Regions from separate parts of the Homo sapiens genome. Here region 1 is reported to be linked to region 2. The links are microRNA targets in miRTarBase. Many come from high-throughput screens and were not tested one by one. Region 2 holds a microRNA gene; the other region holds the end of a gene's coding sequence.
Evidence for each region. The annotated mature microRNA hsa-miR-1973 reads ACCGUGCAAAGGUAGCAUA and lies in region 2 at 1,978-1,996, opposite strand. An mRNA with a match to its seed (bases 2 to 7 or 8) in the 3' UTR can be bound and repressed. Matches are read on the target gene's strand: a 7mer-m8 pairs with bases 2 to 8, a 7mer-A1 pairs with bases 2 to 7 and ends in A, and an 8mer does both.

Region 1: the mRNA of MTFR1L is a reported target of hsa-miR-1973. Seed matches in the 3' UTR shown: 7mer-A1 at 3,793-3,799.

The regions. Positions count from the first base shown.
Region 1 is chr1:25,831,094-25,836,280 of GRCh38, reverse strand. It overlaps MTFR1L (mitochondrial fission regulator 1 like), which reads right to left. Exons shown (of 7, transcript NM_001099625.2): 7 at 3,343-4,360. The coding sequence ends at 4,255. AUNIP (aurora kinase A and ninein interacting protein) reads left to right here. Exons shown (of 3, transcript NM_024037.3): 3 at 435-2,275. The coding sequence ends at 1,288. Among named protein-coding and RNA genes, the nearest start is that of MTFR1L, 14 kb to the right of the region's middle.
Region 2 is chr4:116,296,332-116,301,745 of GRCh38, reverse strand. MIR1973 (microRNA 1973) reads right to left here and starts at 2,021; the gene lies at 1,978-2,021. LOC105377383 (a long non-coding RNA gene) reads left to right here and starts at 4,568. Exons shown (of 2, transcript XR_939096.3): 1 at 4,568-4,787. It also overlaps the pseudogene MTRNR2L13.

The DNA.
Region 1 (5,187 bases), not on the chromosome of region 2:
GTTTAGCATGTTTCTTTAAGGATAATGTCTAGGAATGTATATTTGACCAGGATCACCATTTAGTAAAAAACCACATTAAATAAAAAACAAAAGCAAAACTGATGTGCCGTATGTTAAACAAACCTACAAATGAAAACTCAGCTGGTAAAGTAGGCTATGGTCTGATCGTATGCGATGTTTGACTTTATTAGGTAGGTGATGGGAAGTATCCATGTATTTGAGTAGGGAATATAAGATCTGATGTTTTAGAGTTTATTCATGATAGACTGGCAAGATTGAAAACAGGAAGATTGGCTACAAAGTTATGTGAAGAGTCTTAAGACTCCTGCACTAGGTAGTAATAGTAGCTGATACTGATTTCAGAAAAAGCCAACTGAATCCTGCTTAGGGCAGTTTTTCTGCAGAATAATATTTGTTCATTCCTGTTTTATTAGGAAAGACAAATGGCAGTGACCAGAAGAGTGTTTCATCTCATACAGAAAGTCAGATCAACAAAGAGTCCAAGAAAAATGCGACCCAGCTAGACCATTTGATCCCAGGCTTAGCACACGATTGCATGGCATCCCCTTTAGCCACTTCAACCACTGCAGACATCCAGGAAGCTGGACTCTCTCCTCAGTCCCTCCAGACTTCTGGCCACCACAGAATGAAAACCCCATTTTCAACTGAGCTATCTTTGCTCCAGCCTGATACTCCAGACTGTGCTGGAGATAGTCATACCCCACTGGCTTTTTCCTTCACCGAGGACTTGGAAAGTTCTTGTTTGCTAGACCGAAAGGAAGAAAAAGGGGATTCTGCCAGGAAATGGGAATGGCTTCATGAGTCTAAGAAGAACTATCAGAGTATGGAGAAACACACCAAACTACCTGGGGACAAATGCTGTCAGCCCTTAGGCAAGACTAAATTGGAAAGAAAGGTGTCTGCCAAAGAAAACAGGCAGGCCCCTGTCCTCCTTCAAACATACAGGGAATCCTGGAATGGAGAAAACATAGAATCAGTGAAACAAAGCCGTAGTCCAGTTTCTGTGTTTTCCTGGGACAATGAAAAGAATGACAAGGACTCCTGGAGTCAACTTTTCACTGAAGATTCTCAAGGCCAGCGGGTCATTGCCCACAACACTAGAGCTCCTTTTCAAGATGTAACCAATAACTGGAATTGGGACTTAGGGCCGTTTCCTAACAGTCCTTGGGCTCAGTGCCAGGAGGATGGGCCAACTCAAAATCTGAAGCCTGATTTGCTCTTTACCCAGGACTCTGAAGGTAATCAAGTTATCAGACACCAATTCTAAATGTTTGAAGCTTTGTTTCTAAAAGTACCTTGAAATGATAGAGATGTAGGAAAATATAGTTGTGGGTGGAGAGAGGAGTGAGTTTGTTTAGGTGGGAAGGTGGCATGGGATGAAGTTGTCATTACTGAGCATCTTCTCTGTGTAAATAAAGGGCAGTACCATTGTTAAGACAGTGGGATTGGCATCATGGCTTTCCCTCAGGAAGGTGGTGGCTGGTAAATTCCCTGAATGAGTCTATGATGAACACTGAGGCAGCACAGTGGGTATTTATCTCTATGAAAGTGCCTTTTACTCAGCCTGCACAGAGCCATCTCTTTGCCCTTCCAGATGTCTGACTGGGACCTTGCTTATGGATGTGTTTTTTTTTTTTTTTTTTTGAGATGGAGTCTCGCTCTGTTGCCAGGCTGGAGTGCAGTGGTGCGACCTCAGCTCACTGCACCCTCTGTCTCCCGGATTCAAGCGATTCTCCTGCCTCAGCCTCCCGAATAGCAGGGACTACAGGCATGCGCCACCACGCCCAGCTAATTTTTTTTGGATTTTTAGTAGAGACGAGGTTTCACCATATTAGCCAGGATGGTCTCCATCTCCTGACCTCCTGATCCGCCCACCTCAGCCTCCCAAAGTGCTGAGATTACAGGCATAAGCCACCGCGCCCAGCCAGATGTGTGAGCTTTTAATCTCTGGCTGATCTTAACCCACATCAGCCTAAGCTTGGGATGATTACTCTTGACCCTTTTTTTTCAGTGATTAGCAAATCTCCCCACAACCCAGGTGTGGAGAGAAGAGAGGTAGAATGGTGCTAGTTTCCTATTTTATTTTTGTGGTAACTGTACAGCACTTTAAAGTTATATACTCTATGTTTAAATATCTCCCTTAAAAAGCCTGAGCTGTACAACAATCTGGATGTGACTCTGTTACCCTTTTCCCACAAGATAGGAGGGAATCCCCTTTGTAAAACTATGAATCCAAATAAATGTTTACAAAGTGGCTCTTGTGATAATTGGTAATTAAACCATTACCAATTTTATTTTTGAAAAGGCAACACTGTAATAGTATATGCTGTCATTGCCCTGAGCCTGATCTGAACCAGAGTCTAGTTTGACCTGTCTTCTACCCAAGGCATTATTCCTTGTTGTTGATGTGGTATCTAAGAGGCTTAAACAACCTCTAAGGGACAAACTTGCAAGGTTATAAGAGAACTGCTTCTTTTTTTTTTTTTAACTTAAATTTTATTTTTTTGAGACACGGTCTCGCTCTCTTGCCCAGGCTGGAGTGTGGTGGCATGAACACGGTTCACTGCAGCCTGGACCTCCTGGGCGCAAGTGATTCTCCCACCTCAGCCTCCCGAGTAGCTGAACTATAGGCACATGCCACCATGCCCAGCTAATTATTTTTAAAATATTTTGTAGAGATGAGGTCTTGCTTTGTTGCCCAGGCTGATCTTGAACTCCCAAAGTGCTGTGATTAGAGGTGTGAGCCACTGTGCCTGGCCTAATTTAAATGTTAAATTCTACTTTTATCGTGTATGTCATCTCTCCAGTCATTTTCCTGGAAGACCTGCTTTTAAGAATGTATGGGGCTTAGTGCGGTGGCTCATGTCTGTAATCTCAACGCTCTGGGAGGCTGAGGTGGGAGGTTTGCTTGAGACCAGGAGTTTAAGACCAGCCTGGGCAACATAGCAAGACCCCATCGCTACAAAAAAATTTAAAAATTTCCTGGGTGTGGTGGTGCATACCTGTAGTCCCAGCTACTCAGGAGGCTAAGGTGGGAGGCTCACTTGAGCCCAGGAGTTTGGAGGCTGCAGTTAGCTAATGATCCCACCACTGCACTCCGGCATGACAGAGCTAGATACTGTTTCTAAAAAAAAGAAAAAGAGTATAGGGCAAAATCTCTACAGAAAGGGGGAAGAAACCCCCTAGAAGGGCAGGACCTTATAAGGAAAGAGGAGAAGCCAGTAGCCTGTTTAAGTTCATACACCTTAAAATTAACAATAATCCTATGCCCCTGAAGGATACTGGGTAATCGCAACTCAAGAGATGGACACAGCAAATGCATTCTCTCTCCAAGTCCTTCCTTTAATGTCAGGTAGTGCTTCAACCCAAACACAAGCAGTATACATACCATAGAGAAAGGGACCTGAGGGCATCTGAGTCATGCATGGTGTGGTACATACAAACCTTGGCCCAGCCCAAAGGAGCAGTCAAGGGCCTGGAAGAAAGATGGTTTGCTCTTTCCCCCTCCTCCTCTCTCTTTCCTACCGGGCTTAAAGTCCGTGGAAGAGAAAGTTTTTAATCAGTGGAACTGATAAGGCCTCAGGGCCGTGGAGGGTAGATTTGGTTGTTCAGTAATATAAAATGTGTTTAAGAAAAAAAACAGCCCAGGCTTCCCAGCAGTAGCCCATGTGTTGGCTGGTTCAGCAGCCTGACCTCTACATCTAGACAAGGAAGTGAGGAGGGTGATTGCTGGGCATTGGTGTAGGTTTATGACGGAGCAGCATAAGATTTTCCGTGCCCTGTGAACATGTATACAAACATTCATAGCCCCTTCCCCTCAGCCCTGCTCTGCTGCAAGGAAGCTGCTGAGTGAGTGACAGCTGGGCACAAAGTGTCTTGTGAGACCAGCTATAGGGTCTAATGCAGTGAAGTCAGTCATTTAGGACCTATTTTCACACAGGGGCAAGGAAAAACCAGAAACAACTTCTCTCTTACCCTTTAAACTAAGATACTTCATTCTACACGATTACCTGAAACAAATGTCTCAGGTCAAATCACAAGCCTTAGCTTCTGCTAGGGTTTGAAGTCTGGGAAATATATAATCCAGCTCTTCTCTTTCAGTCCAAGCTCTAGCTTGTCAGCAAGACTGTTGCAGAAGATCTATCCTTAAGAGGCAGAAACATCTGCGGTGAGGAAGGCAGCTATTGAAGGTATTCCAGGAGCATGAGACTGAGTTTGCAGAGCTGAGGGTTGTCAATTTCCTTTTCTACTGATATCTTCTTCCTTTAGAGCAAACTTCCTCCTTAGGACCTCAGAGATAAGCACAGCAGGGTCTTCCTCCTTCAATAAACTCCGGTTCCTAGAGACACAATAATAGCTTGAGTACTTACTCTTTCCTGTGTAGTGCTGTATATCTTTTGAATACATTATCTCGTTGAATCCTCACAACAATCTTACGAGGTAGGTGCCATTACAATTCCCTTTCACAGATAAGGAAATTGAAGCACAGAAAGGTTATACAAGTTGCCCAAGGTCACTAGTCACTCAGCAAGTAAGCGGTGAATCCAGAGTTCAGAACCAAACTAGCTGGTTCCAGATCTCATCTATTAACTAGAATGCTTTACTATTTCCTGAAATAGCTATAAAGTATGGGCAAAGTAAAGGACCATCAGTCTGTTAGAGTTGGCCTCTGGTGGCTAAGCTTCTGCCTTCTGGCCCTGTTTTCTTAGTAGCATTTCCCCAGAGGGTCAGCAGGGGAAGTGACTGATGACTCTTGGCTATTCTGACCCTTGATAGTTCTGGAGAAAAGGTGTGCTTGGGATTTCCTACCACCGGGTCTCCCCTTCAGGGGAGATGATTTTTTATGAGAGCCAGAATTAGAGCAAAACATTCACATAAGAAACTCATGGGAACAAAACCAACTCCAGACTGAAGTAGGCCCAAGTTATCTGATACATCATATAAGAGGGTCCTAGATACCTGGAAAATAGTTGCTTGAAATCCTAGTGAACTTATATACATTCATCATGAAGGTGTTTTACTGGTGATTAAGCTAAATATAAGAGCCAAGACTGACTATTCAACCTTCAAAGCAAAAACAAGAGGGACTGCGTTTGGTTGGTGACATATCTGAACCTTTGCTGACTGGGGTACTTTCCCATTCTTATTCACTGACCCAGCTCCTTC
Region 2 (5,414 bases):
GATAATAGAATAAGAATAGAAAAAAAATGAAAAGAAAATCAACGAGTATACTAAACTGACTTGTATGATGAGTGTAAAGGTAAAGAGACTAGGAAGAGTGAAGAAAATGCCTGTTCTTTCATAAGCAAAGACTTGAATGGGCAGGTGTTATCAACTGGACTCCCTGTAACATTCATTGTTCCACAAGCAAACACACTTGATGATGAGGAAATTATTGGCCCAGTTTAAGGATAAAGGCAAGTTCTGTATGTACTTAAGCATTTCTAGTGAATCATGTGAATGTTCTGAACTGGGAAACTTCAAAAGCAATTTGCCTTAAAAATATTAGGTAATAAATTATAGTCTATATTATAATAAAGGTCCATTTTTGTCAGGTCTATATTAGAATTCTCTAGTGTTTATATGGTAATTTGTCCAATATAGTCCTTTTTAACAACATTCAAGCTTAAAAAGCTTGCCATTGTCTTCATTGGAATATAATTATTAATTTTATGACTATGTTGTAAGTTAAATGCTTAGCATGGGAAATTTCCCATGTTTCAGACTCATTTCTTTATGAGAGCTATGAATTTTTATGTTGTCAGAAAGCAGTAACTTTCTTGCAGTATGCCATATTAAATTGCTGACAATAACAGATTCATTTCTCAAAACAAATGCAAGTGTGAATTTTTTTATCATAATTAGACATTAAAATGTGTTTTCAATGACTTTTGAATGATAGACTTACTTTCAAAATGTCTTTTTGCAAAAATTGGTACACATGATACCATGAATTTTATTAGTTATGTAATAATTGAGCATATATTTAAAATCTGCACCTCCAGAGTGGGGAAGGACTAAATGGTGCTGATACAATTGATCGAATATGAGAGTCTCAATAGCAAGGGTAATGTGGGAGAAAAAAATCATGTATAACTACAAGTCATAGATAACAGAAAACTATTCAAATCTAAATTAAAATTGATTTTATATAAATGTTTTGATTTAAAATACATCATACCCTAGGAGCATATGTACCATTCTAGACATGTCATACAGAAACATAGAGATAAAACAACAGTTGAAATAACATAAAGTCATGAAAAGTGTACTACTTCCATGATGACCAGGCAAGCTTCTGGTCATTGAAATGATACAGCTGTGGCATGACCAGCATTAATGACAGTCTCTTTCAGGGTATTGTACATGTACATGGTACATGTAAATTTGAAATAAGGGTAATTTACATGATGTAAACTACCTTACATGTATATATAGAAATATATATATGATAAATAAGATTAGTTTTCTAGATTTTTGTTGCTTATATGTTATCTGTAAACATTTTTCTGTTTTTCTGATACATATGTCTACATTGAGAAAAATACTTTTTAGTAATCTTAGTGGTTTTGACAATATATGAATTTTTCTTTGCATGGAAGACTATATGGAGTGAGGGCACTTTATGAAGTGGGCCCTATTTCTCTTGTCCTTTCATACTAAGATAAATGTTATATAGATAGAAACTGACCTGGATTACTCAGGTCTGAACTCAGATCACATAGAACTTTAACCGTTAAACAAACGAACCCTTAATAGCGGCTACACCATTAGGATGTCCTCATCCAACATCGAGGTTGTAAACCCTATTGTCAATACTTTTATCCGTAGGGTAATTTATTCCGTTGATTGAATTATTTGGTCAATGTGTACTAACTCGCTTAGACTACTGCAGTCTTAGTTTAGGTTGTTCGGAGGTTGAACTATGCTCCGAGCTCACCCCAACCAAAATTTTTAATGCAGGGATAGTAGGCCAGGGCCTCTAGACTTGTTTGGGTTTTTATTTGCATTAATGAATTAAAGCTCCATAGGGTTTTCTAGTCTCATTTGTTTATATCCGCCTCTTCACAGATAGGTCAATTTCACTGATTAAAAGTAAGAGACAGCTGAACCCTTGTGTGTCCATTCATACAAGTCCCTATTTAGGGAACAAGCGATTATGCTACCTTTGCACGGTCAGGATACCATGGCCGTTGAACATATGTCACCGGGCAGGCAGTGACTCTAAAACTGGTAATGCTAGAGGTGATGTTTTTGGTAAACAGGTGGGGTAAGATTTGTCATGTTCCTCTTACTTTTTGCAATCTTTCCTTAGAGCATACCTTAGTTGGGTTAACAGTGTAAATAATAGGGTGCTTATTATATCATTTATTAATATTAGGTTGTTAACTGTCAGTGGGTTATTCCAGTCTGATGTAAACGTATGCAATGGAGAATGTTTATATTAACATTATTGGTTCTATTAAGTAATTGATTAGTCCAGTATGATGTTAGGAGTTCAGTAGAGTGATTAGAATTGAAGATAGTTAGATGTTGAGCTTTAAATGCTTTCTTAATTGGTGGCTGCGTTTGGGCCAACTATGGTGGTAGTATTTTTTACTCTCTGTAGGAACGTCGTTTCCTAGGGTCTACAGAGCTGTCCCTCTTAGACTAACAGCTAAATTTACAGGGAGAGTAAATAATTCTGTGGGTAAGTTTAAAGTTGAACTAAGATTCCACGTTGGACAACCAACTATCACCAGGCTTGGTAGGCTTGTCACCGCTAGTCATGAATCTCCCAACTATTTTGCCACATAGATGGGTGTACTCTTCAGTTGTTCTTGGGTAGCTCATCTGGTTTTGGGGGACTTGGCTATAATCCTCTGTGTAAAGTTACTTCTAGTTAATACATTATGCGGAAGGTATAAGAGCTTGTCTTTGCTTTTTAGTGCTTTATATAGTTCTTTCACCTTTCTTTTACGGTACTATGTCTACTACACCAGGGTAAAAATTTCTATCACCTATACTTTCGTTTAATGTAAATGGTTTGATTAAGATAGTTTGATAATATTTTTAGCGAGGTTTGGGGCTAGCGTTGGCTCAAAGTGAACAGATCATGATGAAATCTTCCAGGTGTAAGCCGGATGCTTTGGGTTAAGCTACACTTTGGTTTGTCCAAGCGCCCTTTCCAGTACGCTTACCATGTTACAACTTATCTCCTCTGTATGTGCATAGAAAGTTTTTAGTAATAGTGATTTCTAGAGTAATATTTGAGGAGGGTGATGAGCGGTGTGTGCATGCTTCATGGCCTTATTCAACCAAGCACTCTGCGCTTGGTTTACTACTAAATCCTCCTTGAGCCCTTAGATTTCATAAAGGTTGTTGTGAGATTTGCCGGATATAGAAAATGTAGCCCATTTCTTGCCACCTCATAGGCTGTACCTTGACCTAATGTTTTTATATGTGTACTTGTGCTTACTCTGTAACTTTTTTAGGGTTTGCTGAAGATGGCAGTATATAGGCTGCGGGCAAGAGGTGGCAAGGCGGTTGTATCGGGGTTTATCAATTATAGAACAGGCTCCTCTAGAGGGATATAAAGCACCGCCAAGTCCTTTGAGTTTTAAGCTGTTGCTTGTAGTACTCTGGCGAATGGTTTTCTCAATGTAACTATTAGAGTTTAGGGCTAAGCATAGTGGGGTATCTAATCCCAGTTTGGGTTTTAGCTATTGTGTCTTCAGGGTATTAAAGCCACTTTCGTAGTATATTTTATTTCAGCTGTAGTTTTTTACAACTCAATTGGAGTTTAGCTTTATTGAGGGTAGACCTTAATTAAACACTCTTTACGCTGAGTTCTGTCAGCTCGGGTTAATCATATGGTCGCGGTGACTGGCACGAAATTGACCTATCCTAAATATTAGTATAGCTTAGTTAAACTTTCGTTTATTACTAAAGATTTATCACTGCCGTTTCCCATGGGGGTGTGGTTGAGCAAAGTTGTTTTGAGCTGTATTCATGCTTGCTTGATACCTGCTCCTTTTGATCCGGGTGACCTAGAGGGCATTTTCACTGGGGCAGGGATGCTTACATGTGTAATCTTACTAAGAGCTAGTAAAAAGGCCAGGACCAAACCTCTCTGTTTATAGGGTTGTGCGGATCCATCTAGACATTTTCAGTGTCTTGCTTTGAATAATTAAGCTACATTAACTGCATAAATTCTTAAGTGTAAATATTAAAATATGAGAAATAAATAAATAAATAAAAATAGTCGTTTACAGTTCTGGAAATTCAGGGTCTTTAAAGTTGAATTGGCAGAGGTTTGGCTAAGAAGATCACTCATAATCAAGAGTATGATTGATTTAGGAGATGATATATGGGGCAATGCTTTCGGGGGATATGCTCAAGGTATTATATTAGTATTAGGGCAGAAATTTAGTTATTATATTTATTATACAAAGTGGAGGATTAATTTAGTAGGAGGGTGTTAAGATTTTTTAGAAAAATTACATCAATCGAGGGGTAGCTGTTGAGGCGTTCATGGTTAAAATATGATTTCTGGGCTCTGACTGGGCTGCATTTTAGTCTTTTGTTTTTGGGGTTTGGCAAGGATACATTTAGCTAGGTTGATAGTAAAGTCAGAGATGCGGGGAGGGGGTATTGCAGATTTAATCGGAAATAGTTCTTGAAATTCAGAGTGCATGCGACGGGCGTGAGCGTCGGTACGGGCGTGAGCGTCGGTACGGGCGTGAGCGTCGGTACGGGCGTGAGCGTCGGTACGGGCGTGAGCGTCGGTACGGGCGTGAGCGTCGGTACGGGCGTGAGCGTCGGTACAGGCTTGCGTGTCTATTAATTGTTATGTCCTTCAAGCATGAATTAAGTAACACCTTCTGGTTATAATGCCAGCCTGGAATATGAATATAAGGTTAGCTTCTACAATTGATTTGGCAGGAATCAAATCCGAGTTCCTCTACTGCGGATTCGGCAGGGACCAGGTGAGTGATAGCATCCCCCAAAGTTAAAAGTACCAAATGCATGACATGACAGTGCTCCTGTGACTGGTTAATAGGGTGGTAGTCATTAGTCCATGGAAATGTCTTATTTAAGGGGAACGTGTGGGCGATCTTAATTCTATGGCCCTGAAGTAAGAACCAGATGCCAGGTATGGTTTCAGTATAGTCACCCCCAAGTGTCATGGGCCTGGAACCAGGAGGGTGCCACTCCTGAGAGGGATGATGATTTCTCAGTGGTTGGTAGATTAAGAGAGCAAAATTTGATAGGGGATATACATGTTGACGAGGGATTTCTTGACTGAAATGTGCTATGTCCGATGAACGAATGTATGCACTGTGATTTACAGTATGGGTCAATATCCACGTGGGTTAGATTTTATTGTACAGTCAATAGTAGATGTGTGATAGTTGATTAAGAAGTTATTAATATGTGCTTCTATGCATGTGGACTATGCTTGTGGAAGATCATAATTTAGGAGGTGTTAATATTAAAAAAAAACCTAAGAATTCTGTAAATATCAGTAGATAGAGGAAACAACATACACAGGAATAAACGTAACATGATGTGCAATGAAATTGTCTTCTCACTGTAGAAGAATACTAATTAGC